Regions from separate parts of the Homo sapiens genome. Here all the other regions are linked to region 4. The links come from fine-mapping of genetic effects on gene expression. A gene starts in region 4. Each other region holds a variant in brackets. All regions are shown on one strand. Distances are between the middles of the regions. Region 1 overlaps LOC105373531 (a long non-coding RNA gene). Region 2 overlaps NCK2 (NCK adaptor protein 2). Region 3 has its middle 160 kb from the start of NCK2. Region 4 holds the start of NCK2 (NCK adaptor protein 2).

Evidence for each region. PIP is the estimated chance that this variant, and not a neighbour inherited with it, causes the effect.
Region 1: its variant is the best candidate, but not a certain one, in a credible set for the expression of NCK2 in whole blood (TOPMed, PIP 0.54).
Region 2: its variant is the best candidate, but not a certain one, in a credible set for the expression of NCK2 in whole blood (TOPMed, PIP 0.70).
Region 3: its variant is the best candidate, but not a certain one, in a credible set for the expression of NCK2 in whole blood (INTERVAL, PIP 0.67).

The regions. Positions count from the first base shown.
Region 1 is chr2:105,966,046-105,974,156 of GRCh38, forward strand. It overlaps LOC105373531 (a long non-coding RNA gene), which reads left to right. Exons shown (of 3, transcript XR_923144.3): 3 at 3,647-5,146. Among named protein-coding and RNA genes, the nearest start is that of ECRG4, 96 kb to the right of the region's middle. The variant C/T (reference allele first, on the strand shown) is at 3,571.
Region 2 is chr2:105,789,704-105,797,814 of GRCh38, forward strand. All of the region lies in intron 1 of NCK2 (NCK adaptor protein 2), which reads left to right. Among named protein-coding and RNA genes, the nearest start is that of NCK2, 49 kb to the left of the region's middle. RefSeq lists enhancers at 321-370, 611-660, 741-790. The variant G/A (reference allele first, on the strand shown) is at 4,627.
Region 3 is chr2:105,901,124-105,907,590 of GRCh38, forward strand. No RefSeq gene overlaps it. Among named protein-coding and RNA genes, the nearest start is that of NCK2, 160 kb to the left of the region's middle. The variant A/G (reference allele first, on the strand shown) is at 3,510.
Region 4 is chr2:105,739,844-105,747,468 of GRCh38, forward strand. It overlaps NCK2 (NCK adaptor protein 2), which reads left to right and starts at 5,069. Exons shown (of 5, transcript NM_003581.5): 1 at 5,069-5,295. RefSeq lists silencers at 4,720-5,039, 5,230-5,289, 5,400-5,789 and enhancers at 6,160-6,229, 6,330-6,379.

The sequences.
Region 1 (8,111 bases), 230 kb after region 4:
GAAAATGACTGAGGTGGTTGCATTTCATTAATGCCCCAACTCCTAATGGGAAGCACTTGAGTCAACAGCACTGGAGAACACGCAAATTCCCTTTCAATTCCACATCTTGTGCATGCTCACCTGCCAGCCTCATCTCCATGACAACCAAAGAGCCTTCTTCAGAAATCAGCTCAAATGGCACTACCTATGAGACCCTGGCTTCAGCAAGCCACAGGGCCATGACATGCCCCCTGCCCTGTGCCCCCTGCCCTATGCTCCCATATATCTGACCTGCTGCTGATGTTCTGTAATTTTTCTACGTGCTGGGCTTTCTCCCCATAGACCCTGAAGCCTTGATGTGTTTCTTCCTTGTTAGACACCTCCTGCAGTCTCCCACGCATTTAGAAATAGGTTCTCAACAGGTGTTTGTTGATGCAGGGAAGGAAGAAAGGAAAGAAGGAGGGAAAGAAGGAAGCAGGGAGAGAGGGAAAGTGGAGAGGAGGGAAGGGATTCCATGGGTGTGAAGGCAGTTAAAGCAGCTGTGCCCCATCTTTCAGAACATCTGCAGCTCTCTTGTGGCCATCACTAACATTCATCTCCTCCTCCCTCTGAGCCTGGCATCAACATATCAACATGGTGTAATAAGCAGCCTTCTGGTGTTGCCTTGGAGGCTTCCACTTCGGTTCTTATTCACCCTATTCTCAGACAAGCTATAGCTAATGCCAACCAGAGAGCAACTGGCCCCTTGTGGTTTCACCACTGGGCCTGCTCTTGGGCAGAGAGAAGGACCAAGCAAGTTACACCCTCAAGAGAGCATACTGGTTTTGCCCATTTGGGCGATGAGGTTCATTCCTGAGGGATTGCTTAGCGTGAGATGTGGAGATAGGGCTTGGGCCCAGTTCTAGCTTTGGCCATTTCCATGACCTTGAACCAGGTGCTACAGTAACAAGACTGCTTCTGCAACTAGAAATTACATGGGTCTACAAGGTCCTTCTGTTTTTCCAGCTCTGAGATGGAGGATTCATTGGCAGCAGGTACAGGTCAGAATCCCAAAGGTGGGAGTCAAGGATGTTTGATTTCACCAGAATTCCAGGGCCTGGGGCAGGCAGGGCCAAGGTCAGGCCGACCTTGGCTGGACATGGTCCATTAGAACTAAAGGAACCAGACCTCTCCAGGCTATTTTGGATCACCAGGACCAGTCCAGCCAAGTAGGCCTTCTGTCCTAGATGGTTGAAAATGGTTATCTACCTTGACTTTGCAATAGGATGGCCTGGGGGAGCTTAAGAAAATGCTGAAGGCTGGGTTCACCCCATAAACTCCTTCTCTGCAGAGTTGACTTACCCACTAGGCACGGTGCCTAGAACACACAAAAGGTTTACATTTCCCTTGAAATCAAATGAAGAAAACAGACTTTTACGTCAAAGAAGAGGTTTTAATATGCAAAATTAACATATTTTTCTTTATACCAAAGCAGTCATAAAATGTCTCAATATATTTTTACAGATGAAGGAGCCCTGGAAACTCATACTGTAGCCCTGGCCAGGGGTGCCCCACTGTGGCATCGGGAGTTTTGAAAGCTTCCCAGGTTGTTCTAATATGTAGCCAAGGTTGCAAACCACTGGTTTTAAGGGTGTCCAAGTGACTTCCTATGCTTAAATAGGTCTACCTGGCCTCCCCTGAGTCTTGCTAGAAATTTCAATTTTAGAGAAATTATAATTAATTGAAAGTAAAAAGTTTTAAATTAAATTGGAACCTGGTTTCTAAAGTCCTCATTCAAATACTTATCAAATGTTGCAGTTACCAGAGACTGAGTAGGCTTTGAAAAAGTGCATTTAATGTGTGAATAGAGGCAGGAGAGATTACTGGTGGTAGTACAGGCAGTTGGCATCCCCAGGCAGCTGGGGGTGTCTGCTCAGGCTAAGAAGGGGGGCTGCTGATGGAGAGGAACCCAAGTGGCCACCTGGACAGCCAGTGGGCCCTCCTATGTCCATGGGCTCCAGGGACTTCCAAAGCTTTCCTTGTTAGATCTGAAGCAGCCTCAAGGCAAGCAGGGTGATGGATTGATCATTATTACCCCACTTTCAAGGTCAAGTTCGGGCCACACATCACAACAGGCCGACTGCCCACCAGCCAGGCAGTGTCCTGCAGCACGGGTGACTTTGCTAACTTCAGACCCTGTATTTCAGTTAAAGCAGAAGATACTGTTAGACTGTGTTTGGGGAGAAAATGAAAACATTCTCTCACTCTTCACCAGCTTTTGAAGACCAGCATTGAAAATTGCCATGATTTTCATAATGGTACACTGATCCCAGGGCAGCCATGTCTGAAATGTTCAGGTAGAAGAAGCAACAAGTGATTTTGTGTGTGTGTGTGTGTGTGTGTGTGTGTGTGTGTGTGTGTGTGTGTGTGTAACAACATGCTGTTTAATGAGCCCCTGGGTGCAGGTGGGCTGAGGCCTAAAATGACATCAGCCCCAAGGAGGACGGGACAGGGGTTTTATAGTCCTCTGTAAACAGGAAGTGTCCCAGTCTGATGTGATTGCTACGTAGTACCCGGATGGCCTCCTTCTCAATCTTCAGGGGTACGTGTCTTCCAGCCAGGGTAGGTATCTTCTGGCTGGCTCTCTTCCTGATTCTGCTATCTTGCTGACACACGCTGCTGACTCACGTGGACTTGTGCCTTTGGACTGGGCCTGAGAAGGGAGGAGATACTCATCCCTTCAAACTTTCAGGCCCCAGAGAGAATCTTTCATTCCTATTTGGTTATAGAAAAAAGGGAAAAGGGGCAACTTTCTCAATAACTACTGCAGGTGTGACATAGGGGGTGGCGTGGGCACCTTGGAAAAAGAAAACCTTAATTTTTTGGGTATTCTTGAGAGACGGGTTGGTATCCACTGTGTCACTGTAGCAGAAGCAACGTCTGAATTGTCTGGTGGTTAACTGTAGTTTCAACAAGTTTTAATGGCTTTTATTATCAATGTTTTAATGGCTATTATCAATGTTTTAATGGCTATTATCAATGTTTTAATGGCTATTATTTAATTATTATCAATGTTTTAATTATCAATGGGATAACACAGGAGAAACAGGAGGAGCCCAATGATGAAGATTACTGTCCCTACCCATGTTTTAAATCCTCCTAAATTAGAGAACCACCCTCCCAGAAGGTTTGCCAGGTCCCATCCCTTCCAGGTTTGAGTTGGTACTTGGGCTACTTTTCTGATGTTTGAAGCAATTTCTAGAACTGCTTTTTCCATTATCATCTATGTTAAAACAGCAATTAGAGACATTAAACTTACCACAGACCCCACCTTCTTCTGCTAATAAGTAGTCTAGTGCTAGTCTGTTTTGATAAATTGTCAGGTGCATTTGGTTTTGTTGTTGCGTGAGCATTTCCAGGGCTGAGGTGGTTTGGTTAGTGATTATCTCTAGAACCACCTGTAGTCTAATTATTCTATTTAGCATAAATATGAGAGTATGATAACCCCATGAACCATCCTCTGCCCAAGTGACAGAACTGTAATATTTGAATATCCGCTGCGGAAGCCATTCGTCCTCTTGCCATCTTTGGCTTCCTCCTACCTTTAAGGAT[C/T]GTTTTTCTCTGTTTAAGGTATCATACACAGGGACTCCCAGTATGAGCAACAAGTGATTTTTGGCCTTCCCTTTAGGAACAGGATCTCCGGCAGGGTCCACAGGGCTCCACCCTGGCTGCAGGACAACAGCTCCATCTTTTGGACAGCGATGGGATTTGCTTAGGGGCCCAGAGAGTATAGACACTGCCCTCTGTCTCCTCACTTCCACTGCCCCTACCCACTGCCCAAGAAATGAAAAAGAAAGAGAAGAAAAAGGGAGACAGGCAGCTCTCCAGCGTGGAGATCATCAGTCTTGCTTCTCCTTCCCTGCAAGACTATATGACTTGCATTTGCCATTGTGGAAAATTTTACAACATAGTGGAGAGAAAATAAATACTTCAACTTTTTTTTTTTTAATTTAAAGGTGAGCATAACACTAAGAGGTTAGTGTGAAGTGTGATGCCATTCCCAAAGACCTGAGGGCCTCGTGAAAAAAAAAAAAACTACGTACATTTGAGTAAACCTCTGTCATGAGAGCAGAATAATCACAGAATATTGAAAGGAACTAAATATGGTATTTCAGCCAGTCAAGAAGTTACCTCCTTGATCTCTAAAATAGCCATCTCCATTTCATTCTGAACACAATTTTTATCATTAAAAATTTCTGAAGCTGTAGTTCCATTATATGTATCTATTTCTTTAGAAAGTATATCAATGAACTATGGCACACATGTCTTGTGTACACTGTAAAGCCTACAAAAACAGAAATGAGAATGTGACATAGAAAGAAATACAATTCTTCTTTCCCACCACGCCCCAGAGGAGAGTCTGGCACCTCCCGCAGAGTGTGCCTTTCACGTGGAAACCACAGGGCAATACTGTGTGAGTCCAGCCAGCCCATGGAGGATGGAGTGGCAGGCCCTCTTGCATCTTCACTAGAAATGTGGGACATATGGATGCACATTTAGCAAGAAGATGTTGCTGGAAGAAAGGCAGGCCACTCTAGTTTTGCCAGTGCCAGGTCTCTGAGATTCGGGGGCTCACCAAATACCATGCCAGCCCTCCATTTGCCAGCCTGGTACAGCTGGGCCAGGTCGCTGCGTCCCCCATGGAAGGCGGGGGAAGCACTGGTGACCAAGCGGGAGCCTCAGGACCCAGAGTGCACAGAAGGGGCCTCTGCCCTGCATTAGGCTGGAAGTGAATGACAAATAAACATTCGTTGTACTAACCCACAGAGACATGGGGAATTAATTGATAATTGGAGCAGGATCACACCTATTCTGACAAATACACGCAGCAAGTCTAGCTGATGAGAACTGGAGGCCAAGCTTTGGAAGATCAGTTATGTCCACTTGCAGCACGTAGAGGTGCTAGGGACACAAAGGAAGTGTCCCTAACCAGAAAGAACCAGGAAGACACAAACTATCTGCTAGTACAGTGCACCACCAGTCTGGTTATTCATAGGTTGGTGTGTCTGCACGTAAAAACAGTATCTTTCCTGAATATGAATGTGTTGGTGTTGTTCTGTTCAAAGCATTTCCATGTTTATTGTTTCATTTGGCTAGCAAGTATATATATTCATTCACATGCAAAAATCCATGCAGACTTGGGAACAAATTGTATGCCACCTCTAATGAAGACTTCATTAAGGTTGTGACAAGTATGTTGGTGACTCCGCTCTTTCACTGCCTCCAGCTCCCTTCATGAGGACCACCTTGGGAACCCCTGAAATCCTGCTGATGCTGAAAGCTGGAAAGTGACCCTCAATATCAGTCACATGGAAATCCCTGTGCAGTTATGTTGGATCGATCCTGCCAAATAAACATTCTGGACTTCTGAATTGAAGGTTCCCCTCTTCTAGTTGTCAGCAACACCACCATAATAACAGCAGATACAGTTACATGCCAGGTACTACATGAGTGTGCTCTCTAACTTGCAAGAACCCTCTGAGGTAGATGGTATTATCTTTATTTTATAGATGGGAAAACCAAGACTCAAAAACAAGAAGTAGTGACATAAAAGGTGAGGTTCACTCATATCCAGGGTGATGGGATATGAGGGTGGCGGGAATGTAGTTGGAAGTCCCATTACAACCCCTGAGCCCTAGGTGGCCACACCACCCCCTTTCTCCTCTGTCCCCAGCAAGAGCCTTTCTCTACGTAAGTTTCTGGAGAGATGGCCACCTCTTCTCGGCATTCAGTGTCAGGATGCCAGAGCCCCCACCATGCAGAAGCCCACTGAGCTGGGGACTTGAATGAGCTGGAGCAACAGGAGCTTCCCTAGAGAGCGAGGTAGGCCCTCTGCAGCCCATGTTACCTCCACCTTCAGCTGCTGACTCAATGTGCACAGACAGCAGAGGAAACTAATGCACCTGTCCTTTTTTTTCACTTGCTAGTGTCCTGTACAAAAATGATAACACCTACTTTTGAAAGCTTTCTAAGGCAAATGCTGAGAAGATCAATGCAAAACGTTACCAGGAGGAAGTCTCCCTCACTAAGGTGTCTGAGGGATACATTAGTTCCAAAAGAGTCTCCAAGTATCTCTTTAGAAGTTTACATTGCCCTAGTGGTTATAGTTTTTTAAAACCATTCAAAAATAGCACGAAAGGAAGTAGATGACTTCTAAACAAATGGTGAAAGTGAGTTAATTGAATGTGGTTCCTGTTTGTTTACACTCAGGCTTAAAGGGGAAAGAAAACCAACATTGATTTGTAGGGGGGCCACCATGACAAGATCTGTGCTGTTCATTTTGTGTGCATGAGCTGATGAAACCATGCTGAGTATTGGCTATTATCACCCCCATGCTACAGACAGGGGGAATCGAAGCTGCCTTGCAGGTGGTGGAGCCGGTATTGGAATCCAAAAGCAGGCACTGTGGTTTGCCAAGAAGCAATTCAGCTGCAGCCCCTTTCACAGCAAAATGCCAGGAGGTGTCATCGAAGCCTGAGTTCTGACTGCCCTTGCTGGGTGCATCTCAGACCAAGAGCAAAAGAGACATGTGAGGAATCAAGGTCTTCCTGGCTCCCTTTGCTGCACCTGGGTTCAGAGGAGAGCAGGGTCATGTCACTGTGATATGCAGGAGGCTGATGCACAGGAACAGAGTGGAGGCAACAGGCAGATGGATACCCTATCCCCTCCTGAAGCCCAGGAGGGAGCCCATGGGCAGGCGGGGGAACAGGGCGCCCTGAGGTGTTCTGGGCTCATTCCGAGGACAGGTGCTTTCTTCAGGGGGAAGATAACATGCACAAGTGTTAGATGTGACATTTTCACAACATTCGCATTCTTGCGCAGGGCATGGCATGCCCTGGCTTTGAGAGGAGCAGGAGCCCAGGGCCCCCACATTCTGTGGATGCCTTCTCTCCAGGTCCGATGCCATTGCCTTTTCTATGCCAGAGGGAAGAACTGGACCTAAAAGGAGAAGTCTTTCCATGGCTCGTTGGACAGCAAAACCCAAGCTGACCTGACGTAAGACTATTTCTCATTTTCACTGATCCCACTGGGAGTGAACATGCAGACATTTCCCTGCAGCATATTCATGAGTTTGGTGATGCGTGCTGCCCCAGCCACCCCTCCACCAGGGTGTCATGTAAAATAGCACATGCAGCATGCTACTCTTCCAGAGCTGCAGTGTTCTCGATTCCGAAAATGCTTAAGGCTTTGGGTAAGGGCTTGTGGACCTGGGTGGGAAAGAGGTACCTAAAGTTCCCATTTCACAACCCAGGAATCAACTTCCAGTAGGCTCTTTACTGAGGAAAATCAGGGCACCTGGCTAGAAAGCCAGCTCCGGCTGGCTCCCTCGCAATGGTGCTCCGTCCTCTGGATCCCAGTTTCCAACTTAGAAATGGGGACTTGGGCTTTGAGAAGGGTGGGGAGTGTGCCCAAGGTCTCTGGAGAGATTGTGGCAGAAGCAGCCCTAGAACCCGGGTCCTAGCTGGCAACCACGGCTCCTCCCACTCAAATGGATTCCTTTCCACGTCTGGGGTTTTCTCTCAAGATGCTGACATGCGAATTTGTCCTTCTCTTCATAAAATGCTGTGCTTGTGAGCCTGAAATCAGTCCTCTCCACTCCCTCTCAGGTGTCCACCAGGAGGTTGGCAGATGTCCTATATTTTCAGTTCCCTAGGTTGTCAGGCGGCCTTCATGCTGCACAAATCATCATGCCACAGAGGAACAACCCATGCAGTCACTCTAGAGACCCCTGGGCAGGGTTCTAAAGAAAGTGAGCCCCGATAAAGGAGGATGTGGGAAATTAAACTGGATTGCAAGGCATCCCCCTCAGGGCACGGGGCTGCAAGCAGGCTGCACCTTCTCGGCCCAGTTGTTAGCGGGCAGTGGGCAATTTGGAGGCCCCAGGTTCCTGCTTCCCATTTGCCTGGCCTTAATGGGCACTGTAATTATTAACAAAGATGGTAATTTCAGGATTGCTTGTAATGACAAGAGGAAATCTGAAACAACCTCAGTGACCTTCAAAAGGAGACAGTGAAATGCATCATGAGACACCTATGAAATGGGAAATGAAGCAGCTATAAAAATGAACTGTGACATTAATTGTGCCTATGGCT
Region 2 (8,111 bases), 50 kb after region 4:
CTTGTGATTCTCAAACCCCAACTTAGGCTTGCTCCCGGTTAACGGGAGGGCTTTTTCTGACACAGACTGCTGCCCCACACACCCCCAGTTTCTGCCTCAGTGGTCTGGGGTGGGCCCCAGTAATTTGCATTTTTAAAAAGTCCCCAGGTGATGCTGGTGCTGGCCAGGGCACACCTCACCATCAGATAACGAACAGGTTGGATATGAGTGGTCGCCAACTAAATGTTCACGAATGGATGTTGTGTTTTGCCATCACTGCCTGGAGGGGGCAGGGTAATCAGAGTCCAACACTAGCGTGTTCATGTATTGAGTGCAAGGGAGCAGAATTGGCTTGTCTTCAAAACATCTTAATTTTTATTGCTTCTACTTTGTGGAATGTTACTTCCTATTTGTAGAACGAGAAGAATTAAAAGTTGATTTGTGAGCTAAAAATACGGGCAGCCGTTTCTTCTTCATCAAAGCCCACAAATAGACCTGAACATTTAGACATAAAAGTAAACCGTTAGAAATAGTGTGCATGTCATTAGGATCTGTTGATTGGATTAAAATGACAGACTCGTTTCTTGGCTTCCTGCAGCTCTCGTCATTGCCCACCATCTATTTTTAGCAGATCTTGCCCTGCTGACTCAGAGTGGGAACAGTTGCTGAGCCCTGGGCTTCTCAATGCCATAGGCTGGCAAGTAGCCTGACTTCTAGGATGGGTAGCACTCTATGCCTGGGCAGCAGGAGAGTCTGTGCCTGTGAGGAGACCCCTCTGCAGGCAGCCTGGGAGCCCGGCCACCCCCGCCTGCCCCATTTCTTGTTACCTCACCCACTGAGAGGAGCCACCTCTGGAGCCCTGGTTTCCTAGGCCCTTTGAGAAGTGTGCCAGGTGTTGCTGCCTGGAGTGTCATCACTTGATGTGACATCTTACTGCATCCCCCGCACCTGTCCTCATCTTAGGTGAAGGCATCAGGCCAGGCCCTTAGTGCCTCCTTCCTCTGTTCTGGGCACCCCTAGGGGAGAAGTGTACATGGGTGGAGCTTGTCTTCAGGAGACTGTACCTGTTTCTTTAAGGCTGCTGTCCAGGTGGGTCTCTCGCTGCCAGCTGATGCACATAGGCAAGACTTGGGTGGAGGGAACGGCCTTTGAGCTGTGCCCGAAGAAGGAAGGGTGTGGCAGGTCAGCCCGAGGCAAGGGAGGAGAGTCCTCATCTGCAGGGCTTGGTGAGGAGCCAGCCAGAGTCCAACCCCTCCCCTTTATATCACAGATGCACACTGCTAGGGGAGTGCTCCTCGTGTTAGAACCTGCAAGAGTTGGAAGGCACTGCTTAGAGGTTGTCCGCTCCCACTCAGGAAACTTTGGGGCTCTGGAAATGCCCATGAGCAACACAGCTGAGAGGGTAGGTACTGTATGTGGGAGCCACTTGGAAGCCCCTGCGGCCCTGGGCTCAGCCACTCTGCACCCTCATTTTCTCATTTGTTAAATGAAGAGGTGACAGCGGAAGATCTCTAATCCTTCCTTCCAGGATTTAAATTCTAGTAATTCTTAAGAGAATGTTGATTCATCTAGAGAAACCTGAGGCAGTGATGTAAATTACAGCCACACTGATAAGAAACTGGTCATTTTTTACCTCTCCCACGTAACCTCTGTGCCTTCACGTTTTTCTCTTCACTCCAGAAGAAGAGTGACCAGGTGTGGTGGAAGGCTCGGTGGCTTTCACGATGGGAGGATATACGGTGTAAAGTGCCTAACAACAATGTAGGGAGTGCACCCTCGCCCCGTTGCCGTGCTTACCGGCCAGAGTGCTGCTGCAGATTACTCTTCGCTCACTGTCTTTGGGATGTCCTTATTTGTTCCGTGTATTACAGTGTAGTTTATTGTATGTTTTTAGAGCACTCTTGTGTTCATTTAAACTTCTCTAGAGCAAAGAGCATTTCGAACTGACTCCATAATAGATCTGATCATAGTGACCTCTTGAAGTGCTTGATACAGGGTTTCGTTTTTCTACTTGACAATTCAGGCAAATCAGTGGTATACATTCTTCGTAGAGCTTGTGAGTTTTGTCTATAATTTGATCCATGTAAAAATGACGCAGCTGCTCGTGGTGGTTGTGTTTTGATAGGCCACTCAATATTTTCATATCTGTTGTATATTTAACACCCGAATAACTTACCAAGATTTTATCGAGTGAACTGATTTTTCTTTTTGGGAGGAGCAGAGGTCAAGCTACCAAAAATGTTTTTTCGATGTTTTGAGTGTGTGTTTTTTAAGCATAATCAGAAACAAAAAGAAGAGCCTTAATGGGTTAGCGGTTGATTCTGAAAAGCAAGCTGTTGATTGTGTTGTGGGCTCTGCACAGAGCCGTGGGAACGCTTCCCCAGTCCTGCCTTGGTGACCGGAGAGATGGATGAGATTTTGGAGACCCCTCCTGCTCAGCCTCACCACTGACCCGCTCCATGCCCTAGGCAGGGAGGTGCTTTGCGCACCTTCATATGTAGAAGATGGTTTGCTGCTTGGGGGTTTCTGATGGCCCTTTCAGCTATCACATTTTATGATGATCTTGACATTCTTTGTAAGATGTGATTTCTTAGTTATCAAGATCATCATATTCAGTGTAGTCCTAAGGTAGAATCAGAATAAATTGCCCAGCTTCAGCAGTTATCAATTAATGGCCAATCCTTTATCTAAGCCCCTATAGACTCTAACAGATTATTTCTGAAGTGAATTCCAGACATCAATTCCTGTCCTGTAAATATTACGGAATTTCAATAACAATAACTACTTAACAAGTATGCAGTCAGTGTTCAAATTTTCCCACCTGTCTCAAAATGTTATTTACAACTGGTTGTTAAAGTCAGAATCCACGTAAGGTCCACACATGCAGCTGAATGATCTATTGATTTGTCCAAACTCGTTTGTTTTTTTTTTTCCACCTTCCCCATGCCAGTTGATTTGTTGGCAAAACCCGGTCTTTTGTCATTTGGGCTTCCCACAGTCTGCAATGTGCTGACTAGGACCCTGAACTTCCTAGAAACTGCACATCAGAACCAGAGCCAGTCTGGTGCGATTTTCTGGCAAGGCTGCCCCTTAGGTGGTGTGTGTGCATCTATCAGGCCGAGGCCCATGTGAGCAACCTGGATGGCCGTGGCCTCCACCTGTAATGCACAGGGGTTGCAAAGTGATGATTTTCTGATTCAGTCACTCCTTCTGCACTTGCTAGCCAGGTGAGGAGAGTACTTGTCAGCTATTACCCCGACGTGCAGTTTAGATGGGAGTCTTTCCCTTTCTCACCAACCGAGTCAGCTTTTCCCTAATGGTGGGATTCTTTCCTGTCCTGTGTCATGAAGCCAACCCATGAAACTGAAGGTGAGCATCAAGCAGTGCAGGCTTTATATAATGGCCGTGGAATTGAGAAGTGGCAGTGTGGCTCGCAAATTGGCTTCTCAGTCCATGAGAGGTGGGAAGCCACAGATGTAGGACATCTTTAATGAAGGGATTGGGCATTAAAAGCCAGGAGAGGAATATTCATGTATTTTCTGGGAATGGGTGGAGAACTTCTGGAAACCAGAGTGCTGCCTGTTTTTTTGTCCCCTTATGGTTTCTTGTCATTGTCATGGTGATTGTCAACTGTCATGGTCCTAGTGGGAGTGTCATTTAGTATGGAAATTAGATGATAATGAAGTTAAAGGTTCTTCAGAGGTCAGGTGAGCTGCCATCTTGGATCCCACTGGTTTCAGCTGGTCTGGTCAGGCAGGGAACTTCTGACCTCGGGCATCCTGTTTCTGAGACAAGTAGAGTTAAGGCAGGGTAGAAATTCACCTAGGTCATGTAGGCATTGCACTGGCTAACAAGTTTATTTGGCAGTTTTCAGAGTAAATAGTTCTGGTTCCCCAGTATCCACCAAAGTGAGCAATGAATTTGTTTATTTCTTTGTTTTGAGTAGCAATTGTGGAACTCTGATTTAAGATACTTTGTGTGTATTTTTACCCACTGCAGTTGACACCCTCATTGCTGCTCAGGCTGCCCCAGCCTTGGCCAGCGAAAGCTGCCTTAGGTGGCCTTCGTGTTCTCTTGCCACGTGCCTGTAGTCCTTAATAATCACACCGGAAAGCAGGGAGCTGTGGGGGTTTCAGGCTCCTTTAGACAGTGCCTACCCCAGCTGGGGTCTGCGTGCCTTCAAAGAACTGTGGGGACCACTACTGTTTATGGGTTGCTTCTGGTTTGGTCATTGTGTCTGAGCCTTTTCAGTGGATAAAAGCTTTTTTTCTTTGGTGTGGTTTGTTTTTAAACATAATCTATTATAAATTCACATTGATACTTATAACTCAAAATTAGGATTCTAAAATATTGTATCTTTCGATTTTTTTTTTTTTTTTTTTTGGAGACGGAATCTTGCTCTGTCGCCCAGGCTGGAGTGCAGTGGCGCCATTTTGGCTCACTGCAACCTCCACCTGCCAGGTTCTAGTGATTCTCCTGCTTCAGCCTCCCAAGTAGCTGGGATTACAGGCGCCTGCCACCACGCTGGCTAATTTTTGTGTTTTTAGAAGAATTTTCTAAAATTTCACCATGTTGGCCAGACTGGTCTCAAACTCCTGACCGCAAGTGATCCGCCCGCCTCAGCCTCCCAAAGTGCTAGGATTACAG[G/A]CATGCGCCACCATGCCTGGCTGAATCCTTTGATTTTATATTTCCTTTATGCTGAAAATCTTTGTCCCTAGGATCGTTTACGTAATGACTTATTTGCTTGCTTGTGTGTTTTATTTATATACAATATATATAAATGTTTAAAATAACCCCACCAATATAATTGCAAACCATATAAGTACTGAAAACAACAGAAAATGTTTTTGTCCTTAGGGTTTATCTCACAGGGGAAATACAGTCCAATTATTGTATTTCAAAGTCTTTCAGGATAATTCCTCTCTGTACTTAAGCCACCAACTCAATTTATAGTTTAGTTTGTTTCATTCTGCTTTTAATTTTTGGACTTTAAAAAAGTTAATAGTTTATTATTTTATTTATTTATTTATTTATTTATTTATTTTTGAGACGGAGTCTTGCTCTGTCACCCAGGCTGGAGTGCAGTGGTGCAGTCTTGGCTCACTGCAACCTCCATCTCCTGGGTTCAAGCGATTCTCCTGCCTCAGCCTCCCGAATAGTTTATTATCTAAACTGTTCGCATGGTTCCGCAGCCAAAGATGGTTATGTCCAGAGAATGATTATTTTGTATGACTACTCTCTCTATCTTCTTTTTTCCCTACTCTTTTCCATCACCATTTTTTAAAGATGTTTTTTTCTTTCCCCTTTTTATTTCTTGCTTTTTAAAAAAAGTTTTATTTTTTAGAGCAGTTTTAGTTTCACAGCAAAACTGAGCAGAAGGTACAGAGTTTTCTCATATATCCAGTTCCCCCACATGAACTAGCAACATCCCCGACAGGGTGCTGCATTTGTTTCTGTGGGTGAAACTGCACTGACAAAAACCAATCACCCAAAGTCCAGGGTTTATATTTGGGTTCACTCTTTGCGTTGTGCATTCCATGGGTTTGGACAAATGTATAATAATAATTATTGCTTTTTAATGTGAGCAAACACATATGTGTATACAGTGATATATTTTTAATTTTTTTTTTCCTCAAATAAGCAATAGCATACTCTATACACTTTTCCCAAGCAAGAGGTCAAAGGTGGTTTTCTAATTATATGGTATATTGTAACTTAATCATGATATTGAGTTAAACTGAATGGGCCTGTTTATTTAGTTATTTTGAAACGGGTAATTATAAAAACTGCTGCATAAATATTTGAGTCATATTCCAAAAGAGTTAGAAAATACATGGATATTCCTGTCTTATTTTTGCTTTAACAAACTTGGTCTATTTAGTTTACATGTATGCTCCGTCAGTGGTTCTCAGCCAGGGTGATTTCATTCCCCAAGGGATATTCAGCAGGCAGTGTCTGCAGGCGTTGTTGATTGTCACCAATTTAGGCAGGGTGTGGATTGTTGTTAAACATCCTACAACGCAGGGGACAGCTCCACGACAAAGAATTACCGAAACGTCTGTATGCCCCTGGTGAGAAACACTGCTCATGTTCAACCAGGTATTTGAGTCATTATTCCTCCCTCTAGACCTCTCCCTCCTCCCTAACTTCCTTCCTTCGCCGCTTCCTCTCATCTTCCACGCACCCTCCCCCCAGTCTTTTTCAGTAAAACTAGGTATTTACATCTAGGACTTTAGGAAAACATGAATCATTTAAAATGAAACACATCAACGATATATTCTTTATTACCAGTCTTGTAAAAAGAGCAAAACAGTTTAGCATTTGAAAGCTCTATTGTAGTTTGCTCTGGTATAAATCATATGTGCAGTCAAACTTTTTTTGGAAAGCTAATTCTGCTTTATGATACAGGTCCCAAGAAGACAGAATTTTATTAGGTGCATGCACATGGAATACCAACTTCAGGGTTGAAAGTGACTGAGGTTGATAGTCTCTGTATTGGCCGCCCTCTGGGCACTGTGGCTTCAGGGTTGAAAGACAATCATTTGCAGGCGTGTGTAAGTATATATGGCTGGTGGGCAGAGTGGTGGCTTTGCTGCTCTTGCAAGGCTGTTTTGTCATTGATGGCACACAGGAGAGTGCTGGAGGTTAGTGTCAGTTTATCTTATCTCTGTACTTCCTGTTGCCTCACTTTAGGATCTTAAGAAATATTCAATTTCCACTAAAAAGAGGAGTGAACAATTCAATGTTTTGCTGTTTTAAGGGTCATGTATGTAAATATGGATGAATGGGGGCATTGGAGCAGGGAGCACATGGGGTATTATTGGCACCGGTTGCAGAGAGGGCCTGGGGACATGAGTGTGTGGCACAGAACGCAGGTGTTCAGATCGGCAGCGTCTGGACTGAGCCTGGGAGCTGGAAGGCTGGAGATGGTGCTTTTCTTCCTTTTGCATTTGGCAAGGAAGAGTATCCCGTAGTTTAGTGTTATTCCAGAAGCTCTCGGCATCATGTTTATTCCCTTTCTTTTTTTTCCCTTGTACTTTCTCATACCTCTATCAGATAAATTAAATGAATTGGAAAAATAACTAAGCATTTCTCTTTGACGCAGGTAAATGCAGTATACATTTGATTCCATGGAAAGGAAATATATATAATTAGAACACTTATAGACATTAGTGGTGACAGTTCACAGGTTAGTCTGCCCTCTCAGGAGTTGTCTTGATAAAATAAATTTTATTAAGCATGTTACTTGTAAGTGTCAGCACTTATCTGTGGTTGGTTCAGTACCCCTAGCTGGGGTGAGTGTTTGCTGTGATGATGGTTACAAGCATAGTCTTGCAGAAATGGATTTAGTCATCACAGTCCCTTTTTTATTTTAACTTTATGTCTCTAAGACATAAAAATTTATTATCCTTTTTAGGCCTTTGACTCACAGTTTGTACCACCATCTTTTCTTTCAGCATCTCCCCCACCCACAAGAAAAAAGTTGACATTGATTTCTAATCCTTTCTGTCTGGCCAAATTCAGGATCTTAGAAAGGACACCCCTATTTCAGCTCCTATACTAGTGTTTTAAGGGGAACCTTTAAAATGGGATTCTGAAGCCTTGGCTGATTTTTCTTTTCTGCACAGGAAATAACCAATTTGTGCTATTTCTGGGTGGTGTGTGTTGAACTCACAGTTCTAGGACCGGAAGAGACTGCCAGCCATGCGGTTCCATATTGTGCAATGCAAGGGCAGAAATGGTATCCAGGTCTTTCTAAGGGGGAAAAAACCAGTATGGCCAAGCAGCAGGCTGCCAGGCTGTGCGGGCTAGCAGAAGGGAGGTTCTTAAATTCTCTGCACCCATGTGAGGGAGGCTGCTCTCTTGACAGCGTCTTAGGGTCAGGATGGCTGGAATGGAGCGTGGAGCCTGGTCTGGTTGGAGTCCCTGTGTGGCCTTTTGGAGATGAGTATGGTAACAGTGAGGCAGGAAGTGGCTGGATTTGCAGCGACTGTGTGGAGCCTCCCTGTTTAGGCTTAGTGAGCTGATGCAAAGTCTTTCGTAACCATGATCAGTTAAAACAAAACACCTGATGTTGTGGCCTCCTGTCAGCTTTTGTCCTCCTGTAGAAACAAGATGCTTCTAGAAAACCA
Region 3 (6,467 bases), 160 kb after region 4:
GATATGTGTGGATTTGACCCTGCCATCATGATGTTAGCTGGTTATTAAGACTTGTTTGTGTGGTTGCTTTATAGAGTCACTGTTCTGTGTACGTCAGTATATTTTTGTGTTGACTGGTAACAGTCTTTCTTTTTCATATTTAGTGCTCCTTTCAAGATCTCTTGTAAGGCGGGCCCAGTGGTAACAAACTCCCTCAGCATTTGCTTATCTGAAAAGGATCTTATTTCCCCTTCTCTTATGAAGCTTAATTTGGCTGGATATGAAATTCTTGGTTGAAGATTATGTGTCTTGAGGAACGTTGAATATAGGCCCCCAATCTCTTCTAGCTTGTAGAGTTTCTACTGAGAGGTCTGCTGTTAGCCTGATGGGATTCCCTTTGTAGGTGACTTTCCCTCTCCCTCTAGCTGACTTTAGCATTCTTTCTTGCATTTCAACCTTGGAAAATCTGATGATTACGTGTTGTGGGATTGATCTTATTTTGAAGTATCTTACTGGGGTTCTCTGCATTTCCTGAATTTGAATGTTGGCCTCTCTAGCTAGTTGAAGAAGATTCACTCCTGTGGCAGTGTTGGATGCATGCAGACATGCTTACTGACAGGGCAGGGAAGGCAAAACCTGCTGGCACACACACTCTGGCAAAGCAATGTTGGGGGTGGCTATGGGCCTTGGGGAAGCTGCTGTTGGGGGAGGAAGCAAGCAGGTTGCTGCATGGCCGTGGGGGACACCTCACTGGAATTCTCCATTAGTCAGCCATGGTGCACCAGTGCAGGATGTGGGCCCCCAAGGTAGCTGAGGCTTTCCTGCAAGTGGACTCAGCCAGGCTGGGGCCTCAGGAGAGGCCAGCAGACCAAGGGCACTGAGGTCCAGACTGGCCCTGTCTGATGGGCAAGACAGCTCTGCAGAGTTCAGGTCTGACAGTTCGCAGAGGGCTAAAGTCTCCTATGAGAACAAGTCGAGCCTAGGAGGCTGGGCATCCCTGACCATGCTCCACTGCAGATGCTCCCACACCAAACCCTCTGGGCTCTGCATCAGTTGGCATGCCCCACTACCACTTCTCTAAGCAGCTCTCCCTGCAAACTCGAGTGTCCACAGTGGTCGAAGGGTCTCCTGCCAGGATTCCAGGTGCCCGTGGTGAGAGCAGGTTGCTCCTTGTCAGTTCAATTCACCCATTACCCCAGAGTCACTGGGGGCCAGGAGTGAGTCCTGGTGTGCAGTAGCCCTTCCATTCAGGGTTCCCAACTTCCTCCCCATTCAGCTCAGCTTCTGTATCTTCCCTCCATGTACTCTCACAGCCTTCCCTCTGAAGATCTGTTAGGACTGTGCCAGTGGTCTTGGTCCCTCAGTGGCAGCTGTTCCACCTGGCTGCATCTAGTTGGCCTTCTTGCCCCAAAAAATCTCTATCTGCATTTTTAACATGCTGCTGGAAGATTCCAATGAGGTGGTTTGGACCTGCACTTTGGGTTCTAGTCTAGTCTACTTGAAACCTCTAGGGAAACACGTTGCTCTCAATGCATGCCATCTACAGCATGTCCTTCTCCTTGGGCCATATAGAATAGGGGTCCCTAACCCCTGGACCATGGACCACTACTGGTCCATGGCCTGTTAGGACCCAGGCTTCACAGCAGGAAGTGAGCAGCAGGCAAGCGAGTGAGCATTACTCCCTGAGCTCCGCCTCCTGTCAGATCCGTGGCAGCATTAGATTCTCATAGGAGTGCAAACCCTATTGTGAACTGTGCATGCAAGGGACCTAGGTTGTGCACTCGTTATGAGAATGTAACTAATGCCTGATGATCTGAGATGGAACAGTTTCATCCCAAAACCGTCACACACACACACACACACACACACACACACACAGGTTTGTGGAAAAGTTGTCTTCCACAAAGCCAATCCAGGTTGGGGACTACTGATATAGAAAGAAATGTCTGATCTTTAAGGCCCAGAGTGATTATTTTTCTCTTTTGTTAACTGTCTTACTTGCCTTAACCTCCATCAGGTTTCCCACAGCACAGCTACTAGCCATACAAACTCACTGGAAAGACTCGTGCTGTTCTATCTTTGGCAGATCCTGCTACCTGACACTAAATGACTATTGAAGATAGACAAGCCTGACAGCTGGTGTGAAAGCTCGCCTTTGACAGCTTTCAAAAAATCCCTGAGCTCCTCTCCAGTGGCCAGCATTTGGTCAGGAACCAGGGCACCAGGGCCTTGTCCTCAAGCATCTGCTGGTTGGTGGGGGCATGTGGCCTTCCAAGATTAGGTCATGGCCCAAGGAAGCCCCTAGTCCAGAAAGTCAGTGGACTTGTGTAAAGCAAAGGCCTGTGCTCATGGTGGTGGAGTGCGCCTCCATCGGTGCACACCCTGCATCTGAGCCTGGGTGCTCCTCACCAGCGGCTTGACCTCCAGCCAGTGCTGAGAACTCTGTACCTCCAAAACACTGGTGCAGAGCTGCATTTTTTAATACAGCCATTTGAGGGGGATATTAGAGTTGTTAGGCGTTGTTGTACATTTAGACAATGTAAACTGCGTAATGTGAAATACTTAGCACATTTGTATAGCTGGTTAAATGGGCTTAATGAAAAGGAAAAAAATAGGTTAATGTGCTAAATTATTATCTAAATGAAGCTAGTAGTGACTTATACAAGATTTCAGACTACATCTACATGTAGTACCATAGAGACACTGTGTTCAAATGATTTTAACCTAGAACTCCATCCAGTCCCACAGGGAATGGGATGTCAGTAATATTCATTTCCACAAGTGCCAGGGAGGTCCTGTCCTGTGCAGTGAAGAGCAGAGAATAAAAAGATGAGGGAGGCTTGACATTGAGGTAATGAAACTAAAATACTTGCCCAATCAGAATGCAAATATCCGGCCAGGCACGGTGGCTCACGCCTGTAATCCCAGCACTTTGGGAGGCCAAGGTAGGTGGATCACTTGAGGCCAGGAGTTCGAGACCAGCCTGGCCAACATGGCAAAACCCCACCTCTACTAAAAATACAAAAATCAGTGGGGCGTGGTGGCGCACACCTGTAATCCCAGCTACTCAGGAGGCTGAGGCTGGAGAATCGCTTGAACCTGGGAGGTGGAGGTTGCAGTGAGCTGAGATCACATCACTGCACTCCAGCTTGGGCGAAAGAGCAAGACTCCATCTCAAAAAATAAAAAAATAAAAACTGCAGACGTCCAAATAGCATTCATATCCCGTTAGTTCTATGACAGTGGTGGCTTGAGGTGTTGGAGAATAACAGGTGCTGTCTTTGTTAAAGGTGCATTTGGAATTTGTCTTTGGGAACTGCCCACCCATATACTGTGGGGTAGCCTTGGATTATCTGTGGTGGAAAATCTTTCAGGTTGTGCTTTTTTTGAGGTAGGGAAAGTGATACTGGTTACAAATCCATTTAGAAATAAATCATTTGGAGGAATCTTAATTTTCTTCACTTTTTTATACATCTTTTTTATTATCTGGATGAAAAATATAGAGAAAAAAGTTGAATATTTTTAAATTGC[A/G]TGGAAACCAAATTTAAGTTGAGTAAAAGTAGATATTCATATTGGTTATACTGGTGGTAGGAAAATAGGAGAAAGATTTCTTCTCTGGAATTTGTTTGGTTTCCCGGTGGTATTAGAAAATAATTTTCTGGCAGGGTATAGTGGCTCACACCTGTAATCCCAGCAATTTGCAGAATCTCTTGAACCCAGAAGGTGGAGGTCACAGTGAGCCCAGATTGCACCATTGCACTCCAGCCTGGGCAACAAGAGAGAAACTCCATCTCAAAAAAAAAAAAGAAAATAATTTTCTCTTTAGTCAATATTTTCACCAAAAGTGCTTGTTAACATGATTTGCAAATTTCAGAATGTAATGAAGTCAATGAACAGATTGGTGTTGCAAAATACTGAATTCCTAATCTAGGTAATCTAGAAAAAATGTTTTGGTTCCCTTCTTAGTGAAGTCTACCATGACTATCCCATTAATAATGAAACTTGCCCTCTTCTCTTTCGTCTTTCCCCTGTAGTACTTATCAACTTCTAACATGAATAATTTACTTACTAGGGTTATTATTCTCTCTGTCAACACACACACAGCTAGCATGAAGTTCCATACAGGCAGCGATATTTGTTTTGTTAACTGATGTAGCCTAAATAGACCAGTGCTTGGCATCTAGCAGGTGCTCAATAAATTAGTTTAAAAGCACTGAATGAATCAACCTGAGAAAAAGAGAACAGTGTACTCTGAGTCCTTTAATATCTGAAAATGCCTTTATATTGCCCTTGAAAACAAACGCTTGCTTAGCTGGACATGGTTCATGCATCACATTCTTTTCTTGCAAAATTCTACATAGTATTCTATCATCTTTTGGGATTTAGTCAAGCCAAGTCAGATGCCATGACTATCCTTGTGACTTGGGTCAAAGGCTCACTTGTGTCACTGATTCCTGCCTTTCTCATTTAGCGGCTGCCCCACACATCTGCCTCCAACTCCAGCACCACCTTTTTCCTTCATAAGGTCCTTACCCACCCGCTTGGTCCCCAGTGCATAAAATTTCCTATTCTCAACCTCCAGGCAATTGGTCTGTTTTCTTACTGCTTTCTGCCAGACTAAATAGTCATTTTTAATGGCACAGCCATCCTATAATTTCTTTCTTCTGAAGTCTTTCCTTTCTGAACCTCTGCTGTACTCTCATCACTTCACTGCCATCAAGGAAGGCTCACTGGTTCCCTCCTGTCCCATGGGGATAGAGGATGAGATCCAAACTAGCAGACAACCCAAGCCGCAGACTGCTAATGTGCTTCAACTTCCCTTCCAACCTCAGTTTCTCACATCTCCTAATTAGAAACTGTGTTTTCGAAATTCCACAAAGAGGCTTGGCACAGGCATTCACCTTTCCCTGTCGGGTTCATGCTCTTCCCCAGGCACTTTTGTGATATGGGGGACTTGCTCTGCCTTCAAGCCCTGATGTCCCAGCTCCTCCTTTCTCATGCTGCTCCTTCTCCTGGGAGACCAGCAGTATTTATATGGCACCAGGGCTACACTTGATTGTCGCTGGCCAGCTTTCCTTGTATCTCTCTGTGTCTTTTCTCCTCCATCAGACTATCAACAATTCGACTTGATATGATATTGCCATTTTTTATCAAAATGATTGAATATTCTCAATTTCATGGTTCACAAAAAACTTAAACTTTTCCCAAAGTTATTAATATGTACTCTCTGTACATGGTAGGTGCTTAACAGACATTTGTTGACTGATGAACAACAGGAAAAGAGAACCTATAAAATAAGGTAGCAGGCTTCTCTCTAGCTTAATTGGAGGTAAGCCAAACCCACTTTAAGTCACTAGAAAGGTCTTACCCACCCCTTAATTAAGCCAACGTTTAATGAAGCCAACTTAAGCATTAGCTAAAAAGTATATTCTAGGTTTCAGTGGTACTTTCATTTACCTTGAGTTTGCACATGCGAGCCTTGGAGAGGACAGACCACTGGGCCTCCTGTGTCTCCACCATTGCTGAAGACCATATGGCATCTGAGAATGAGCTCCACTGAGTTGGATCTTCAAGCCCAGGATGTCATTAGCTAGTGCTGTTATTTCTTATCTGTCTAAATCTACCACAGAACTTTTGAAAAATCCTTTAAGTTGGGTACCAGATGTGGTCCGTAATACTTTTTAAGATTGTAGGAAAATATGCATACCATAAAGTTTGCCATCATAACTACTTTTAACTGTACACAGCTCAGTGGTGGTAAATACATCCACACTGTTGTACAACCATCATCACCATCCATCTCCAGAACTTCTTCATTTTCACAAACAGAAACTCTGTCCCCATTAAACAACAACAACTCATCCCCAGCCCTGCAGCCCCCCAGCCCCTGGCAACTATCATTCTACTTTTTCTACGAATTTGACTATTCTAGGTACCTCATAGAAGTGGAATCATACAGTGTTTAACTTTTCTGCAACAGGCTTGCTTCACTTAGCATAATGTTCTCAAAGGTCATCCATATTGTAGCATGTGTCAGAATTTCCTTCCTATTTCAGGTTGAATAATATTCCATTCTACGGATAGAGCACATTTTGTTTATTCATCTTTCAGTGGACATTTGTGTGGCTTCCACCTTTCCAGCTACTGCCAATAATGCTGCTGTGAACGTGGGTGTGCAAATATCTGTTTGAGTTCCTGCTTTCAGTTCTTTGAGGTATGCAGCCGTAAGTGGAATTGCTGGATCATATGATAATGTTATTTTTAAATTTTTAAGGAGCTGCCAAACTGTTTTCCATAGCAGCTGTACCATTTTACTTCCTACTAACAGTGGATAAGCGTTCCAATTTCTCCACATCCTTGTCAACACTTATTTTCTGTTGTTGTTTTTTTTTTTCAGGGTAGCCATTCTAATGGGTATCACAATTGTGACACTTTTATAAAGTGCAGAGGAAGTGTCATTCCATTAGAACTTAATCTCACGTCTGTAAC
Region 4 (7,625 bases):
GTTGTCTTTGCAGTTTCCCACATCCAAAGCCTCAGGTTATATTTGTGCCCCATTCTCTTTCTCTTTGGTCCCCCACATCCAAGCAGCTGCCAATTCATTTTGAGCCTCCCCTTCCATTTCTCCTAAAACACTTTCCCATCTACTCATTCCACCCCAGTTGGGGTTATGAACTCTCTTGGAAATGCGAACTTTTGTCTGCTCTTCCTGTCTCCAGCTGTCCTTCCGTGCATGCACCAAATGAGTGTTCCTGGGCTGAGCCCAGATGATGTCCACACTTAACTGCTTTCCTTCTTGGCCTCGCGATCCGCTCTGTGCAGCCTCTGCTCCATTTAGGCAAGTGGGCCATTCTCTGTCCCTACAGGGTCCTCCCACGTCCCCCTGTCTGCCTCAGAGTTCTGAACTCCTGCCGCTGGGAATTTTCTCCCTGTCTATCTCCACCTTTCAAAATCCTACCATTTGCATTATTCAGGGGTTTGGGTTCCAAAAAGAGGAAGTGCCTCTGGGTACCTTAAGCAGAATAGGAGAATTTACTAGAAGAATATCAAGTAGCTCACAGGGGAACTGGAGAGCAGAAGGGGTGAGAATGGAGCTGGCTAATTCCTGTGGGAGGGATGTGCTGGGACTATTTCAGCCATGGCAAATTGAATCTCACCCTCTCTTGTCCTTTTCACCCTCTCCAGTTTCACAGTCTTGAGTGGGAGGGTTCCATTGGCCAATCCCAGGCTGTTCACTCTCACAGGGCTTCTGGGAATGGAGGGACCAAGGTGCCTACTCTGCCTCCCTCCAGGGTTCAGACAGGCTTCTCTAAAACCAGGAAGGGGCTAGAGAGGGGGGCAGCCAAATTAAAGGCAGCTTCCCACCATGTAATCTCTCAAGGTCATTGCCAATGCCACCACCTTTCATAAAGCCTAAAGCTTCTCCTGATTCTCTAGACATATTTTCTTTGGTACTGTTCATATTTAGTTTTATATTATAGTTATTTGTATGCTGGTTTCATCCTTCCTTTTGGGTCTTTCCTCTCCATTTCTCCTAAACTATTTTCCCATCCTTTCACTCCACTCCAGTTTGCGTTATAACCTCTCTGAATAATGCAATCTTATATCTGCTCTTTGCACATCCAGGTGTTCTTTGGTGTCTGCACCAAATGAATGAATCCTGAAGTGGATCTTATAATGCCTTACAAATAGAACTACACCAGATATGCTTAATTGAATTGAGGGTTACAAGAGAAGGTCATGAGAAAGGAGACATGAGTGTTTACCATGTGCTGAACACACAGTTGAGACATGTTTATATTATCTCCTTTAATTCTCACAACGCTTTGCAAGAGCACTATTAATATCTGAGGCTCAGAGAGGTGAAATGACCCCAAGGCACAGGCTCCAAGGTAGGCTTTGAGCCTCTGACGTATGACTTGGACAACACCCTCAACCTTGCTTTGTGTTTTCCGTGAGTCTAAGGAGGGGTTAGAGAAGGCCTTGAATGGAGCTCTGAAAGAGAAGGACGGGGACAGGGAATTCCTAGCTGCCTTCACACCACAGAAGGCTGAAACTAGTGTGACTCAATGTGGCACTGTGGGCAGAGCTGAGTGACTGAAGCAAACAGCTTATACTGGACAGAGGTAAAAAGGAGATTGTATGGCAGGGCTAAGTTGGAGAGGCCTTTGGAAGAGAGATCATAAGATGTAATGCTGATGTGATTTTAGGCAAAAGTTTACTGCACCTCCTTCCACTCCATGTTTTTTATGCTTTCAATACTTTGTGATTGAAGACAGTAAAACAGATGTGGACACATTAATGGAGTAGAATGCAGAAAAACCTATATATTTTTAGATAAAACATAAGCTTCAAAGAAATGTCTCCCCCATGTTAAGCCTTGCAGTGGGTTGGATGTTGGCCCCAAAAGATATGTTCACCTGGAAGCCGAGAACGCGACCTTATTTGGAAAAAAGGTCTTTGCAGATGTTGTAAGATAAGGATGTCGAGATGACATCATGCTGGATTAGAGTGAGCCCTAAATTCAATGATACTTGTCTTTACAAAAAGAGAGAAGGGAAAGGACACAGGGAACCAGGTTGTGTGAAGACAGAGAGGCAGAGGTGGGAGTGACACTGCCACAAGCCAAGGAATGTCTGCAGCCACCAGAAGCTGGAAGAGGCAGGGAAGGATTGTTCTCTACAGACTTTGGAGAGAGGCTGGTGTCTTGATATCAGACTTCTGAACTCCAGAACTTTGAGAAAATAACCTCTGTTTTGTCACCTAGTTTGGGGTCATTTGTTAAGGCAGCCCCAGGAAACGAACACAGGCCTCTAAGGGCTAAATACCCCAGCCTCTCTGGGGGAAAATGCTCAGTCTTCAGTCATCAGATAACTTTTGAGGAGACTGTGGTGGGCAATGGGGAGCCATGAGAAGTTCTTGAGCACAACCAGGGACAAATGGAAACAATTTACAGGAAGGTTAGGATGACATTGATGTCCAGTGTGAGTCTGAGGGATTTAAGAAGGAAGTAATGGGAGACCAGTTGGAAGGCAGTAGTTGTGGGGAATTGAACAAGAGTTTTGGAGTCAGGTACATGCTCTGACCCCAGTTCTTTGATCCACTGTTCAAGTGATTTCATCTGTAAAATGGGTATAATACTATTGTGTGTGGATTAGAGATGATATATGTCAAGAATTCAATCAAGGTACATTATAACTATTGCTAGAATGATGTATAAGTTAGGATGCCAGTGATGGAAATGGAAAGAAAGGTGCAGTGGAAAAGATGTTTAAGAATCACCAGGACTCAGAACCATGGGGGTAGTCTGCAAGGGGTCTTGGTGTCATTCAGCGCTCTCCCAGCTTTTCTTGGGGAGAACTCGGAGAGAGGGAAGGAAAAGCCAAGATAACAATGAGATTTCTCCCAGGAGCTGAGGTGCCTGGTAGACTCTTGGCCAGGCCTGAAACCATGGGAGGAGGAGCTGGTCTGGGGAGCAGATGAGTTTCATTTTGAACATGGTGACCTAGAAGAGATGCTGCGCCATGTTTAGGGGGTGCAGATTAGCTGGGGAGCTCTGCAGATTAGCAGGGGAGCTCTCTAAGGCTACAGGTCTGGGGGTTAATCAATGAAGGTTTAGACAGGGAGTGTACAAAAAACAATCAACTCTCTCTTTAAAAAAAAAAGGTGCGTATCAGAATAAAAACAAAGGGCCACCATCTGCCTTGGGGATATCACTTTTACAGGGTGGGAAGACAACAACCTCTCTAGAGGAGGCAGATGGGCAGGTCAGAAAGGTAAGAGAATCAGAACTGGCTGTGTTTGATGAATGAAAAGATGATGGTGTTTCAGGAAATAGCAGAAATGCCACATATTTCAGAAAACTCCACAGGATAAAGATTGATAAAGGGCCACTGGATTTAGATAGAGAATGACATCGGTGACTTCTAAAGAATCAGAGAAAGAAGAGGCATGCAAGAACCACGATTCAGTGAAAGTTTACAAAGCAAACAAGCTACAAACTGGGTCAATATTGCTATACTTATTTTGAGTAAATTAATCTAAAATTGGGCAGACTGATGACTAGAATTCTTCTTTTCTTATTGTAAAGCTAGATATTAGTAACACAAAACTTGCACAAAAGGATGAACTGAAGTAGCTTCTTTCACAAGGTCAAAACAAGGAAAAATGAGGCTGTTCTGATTCCCTGAGCTTGTACCTGATTCCTGCTCAGTGTACTGTGCTTCCTTCCACTTACTGAGCTATTGAGGGCTACCTACTGCCAGGGTACTTCACATAGGAGGTAAGTAAATATTATCTCCCCATATGACAGATTTTAGAAAGGCTGAGGACCACCTGTGCAACGTTACACAGTTCAGGAAGTCAACAGTCAAACACTCACCTGTCTGACTTCAAAGCTACGCTGACTCTAGTTACCTATCCTTGGGTACTTCCCTTCTGGAAGGAAGCAGGAGATGAGTGAATCAAATAATACAGCCTTGTAACCTTGGGTAAATTATTATTGCCTTAATAGTAAGCAGAGACCAGGAGCCTAAGAAAGAATCTCATTAACATGGATGCAGGCTATCCTGCCAGGAAATCAGAATCATTTGAATATTAGGATTTCCTTTGGGAAACCATATGGGGAGGAGAAAAGACATCCGGATGCATGTGTCTGTGAAAGGGAAACTTGTGTCTTTCCCCTTGCTCTTGGGTTTTCATCTTCCAAGTTTGTTTATAGGCTAGCCACAACTCGAGGCTGGGTGAGCTGAACGGTCCCATCATTAGCGACACTCCTTCTAGGGGCACATTCGGGCAGCTCCTCTTCGGGTTCTGCCCCCACGGGTGTGCAACCAGGATTCCACAGGCTGGGGCTGGCCTGGATGCCTGGGAGGCAACAGAGGTCGAGTTTCTTCTTCTTTTAGGAAGTGCCTCGGACAGGGATGATGGACTAAAAATGTGTCTGGTTGGGAAAGTAAATAGATGCAAAGCAAATAAATAAAAATGCCCACAAGCAATTACAGGGAGGAAGTGACATTTTTATTTAAGTCACTTTTCTGATGGACAACAGGCCTGCTTAGCTGAGTGCCGTGGGAATGCTTCCGGGAGGGGGGCGGCTGCCCAGCAACTAGAGCTTCGTGATAAGAACAACGAACAAACAAAAAAGAGGACGCAAAGCCCACCCGGCAGTCATCCCAGGCTGGAAGTTGCCGTCTGTGTTTTCACTCTCCTCCCCACCCACCTACCCTGCCCCCCACCGCCCGCACGCAATTTCGGGCGTGGGGACCCTTTCCTGCCCCCGGCGCCCGGCCCGTGCTGCGCCTCCAGAGCGGAGCGTCCCGCAGCCCCGCGCTATCCCGGCGCCCGTACCGGGACCCGGGCGCGGAGCCTGGCGACGACGGGGGGCGCCCCAGGTGGGTCTCGGGTCCCCGCCCCGCGCGCCCGGGCCTGGGCCGGCCCCTGGGCGGCGTCACGGCGCGGCCGGGGAGGAGCGCGGGAGGAGGAGGAAGAGCGCGGAGGAGGCGGGCGCTGCGCGCCGGGGGAGGGTCGCCGCCGCCGCCGCCGCCGCCGCCGCCGCTGCCGCGGGGATCGTCAGGCCGGAGCCGCGCGGCCGAGCGGGCGGCGGGCGGAGGGGAGGGCTTGGCGGCCGGGAGGCTCGCGGCGCCCGGGCCGGCAGGGTCCGCCCGGGCCGGCAGCGTCCGCCCGGCGGCGGGAGGAGGGAGCGGCGCAGACAAAGAGCGGCGCCTGGGCGGGCGCAGCGCGGCCACCGCCCCGGGACCCGCGCCGCTGCCCTCCGGCTCCGCGGGCGGCCCACGGCGAGGTAAGCGCGGCTAGGCGGGCGTGGGGCGGGGGCCACAAACTTGGGGCCGTTGGGCGGAGTTGGGAGCGCGGCGGGGCTCGCGGGCCGGGGTGCGCCCGGGAAGGGGCCAGGAGAGCGGGTCCCCTCCGCGCCCCTCCGGTGCTCTCGGCCCTGCCGCGGCCTGGGCGCCCCCGACCGCGGACTGCCGGGCACCTCCCGGCTCTGCACCTTCCTGCCCGCCTTCCCATCCCTAACCCCCACCATCGGGGGCCGGCCCAGGGGCGGGGACGCCAGCCAAGGGCGCGGGCGAGGATCAGGGCAGGGGGCCCGGCTGCGGGGCCCGGGGACTGGAGACCCCCGGGTGCGCAGGCTGCGCCTGGCCTGCAGGCGGGCGGCCGGCACGGAGCTCGGGGCTAGCGTGGGACCGTGCGGTGGCCAGGGTCGCCAGGGCGCGTGTGCCGGGGAAGAATAGCCGCGGATCGCAGGGCCCCGGCGCAGGGACGGGGGAGGCCGCGATCGGCCGGGAGAACTTAACCGTGTTTATTACAACTATTTATGTTCGCGCACAAAGCTGCTGTCACATTGCATAAAGGAGGTCCTCGCTTCGGCGAAGGGAGCTTTTGTGCCCGGCTTCAGGCTCTGCGCCCTGCCCCAGATTTACAGGACTCTAACAGCCACCTGAATGAACCAAAGTTTCTCACAATCGCTCGGCTCTCTCGGTTTTTTTCAGGGCGATTTAATCACCGAGTGCTTTTGGAAAAATTTGATATGTGAGTTTTAAGGCATGGAGGGTAACTGCCTTATGAGCACAGTTAGCTTGGCATTGTGTGGAGGGGTTTAATTTGCAAAACGCTTTAATTTGTAGACAATGGGGATCTCTGTGAAGGTCTGCGGTGGATGCTAGGGGTCATTGGCTGGTGGACCCCAGGCACCTGACTTAAACTAGTATTGTAACAGCTTCAGGGACAAAGCCGAGCGTGCGTGGAGTCGGCCTTGGCCACTTCACACAATTCAGGTTGGCAGATTCCTCTTTATTTGGCTTTGTTTATTTTGCCAACAGGTTTAAGGCTGCTTCTGCCAAGTTTGCATCTGCATAATGGGATGAGCAGGCCCCAGTGTGGGCAGGAGGGGGCCTAAAATATCGCAAGGGCCAGCTCCGTCCCTCGACCCAGAAAGAAACAACCCTGAGAGGCCGGTGGGCGTGGCTTGCTGGGACCTACAGGTAGGGGAGTCCCTTCCTGGCCCAGGCGCAGTCCCCGCTTCTCGGAAGGGATTTTGTGTAGGAATGAAAGTGATTCAGGGTGTTTTTCATGCCTCTGTTTTAGATGTAGTTATCAAGTCTCAAAAGTGACTGAAAATGAAATTAACCTGGGCCGCTTTAACTTACCAAAACGGAACTGTGCGTGTGAACACTCCCTCAATTCACTTTGCAAGCTTCATAGATAAGCAGGTGAATTAGTAACAGGATTCAAGCCTTGCGAGTTTTACGTAAAGAGAATGGCAGTCATCGGACACGTGGAGAAGAAATTGACTTCACCTGGAGATTGGGCTAGACATGGAGGTTTTTTGACGTTTGGAACAGGGGTTTCCTGAGAAGCAAGTGTTAACCTGCTTGTGAAGAAGTGAACACGAGGGAAAATCCTACCTCAGTATATTCTGCCCTGGAGGTTGGTTAGATGTAGTTTTGATTGGAGAAGGTGGCGGAATCTTAGTGGTCTTCTGGCGGCTACTTGAGGCTGAAATGGAGAACTTTAGGCATAGGAAGCTGTGGAGGTGCCTGGCCCACTTCCTGTCCCGGAGGCCTCGCCTGGATTCTGAGCTTCTTTCCTGCTTCATAAACATTCAGGGGGGTTGGTCATGAAACACTGGATGAAATTGGGTCACAAATTGCCATCAGGAAGAGTTGGCTGCTGCATAACCCCCTCTGTCCACTTGTGGAGAAACTGACCCTGTTAACCGTCGGGCTTGCTGAAGGTGCCTTGCAGGTGGCTGTGCTCAGTTTTCATGCTTTGTGTTTTGCTTAGGACACGCTGCATACTTAAATCTTCTTCATCCTTGCTCTGTTTGACCCTGCCATATTCCCAGGCTTTGTCATTTACATTTTCGGTTATTTAGCTTTTCCAACAAACAGCAGATCTTATGTACACAGTACTATATTTGAGAAATGCACTACCATCCATATTAAATACACCGGAAATCTTCCTTGCATGTGCACAGACTGGATAACCTTTTAAAATACCCTAAGACTCCCGGAATGGCGCAGAATGCACTGGAGTCCTTTACTTGATCAGTTGCACTAGCTTAGTTTGCCCTGGATAGACCAGGCTGCGAGGCTCTATGGGACACCCATT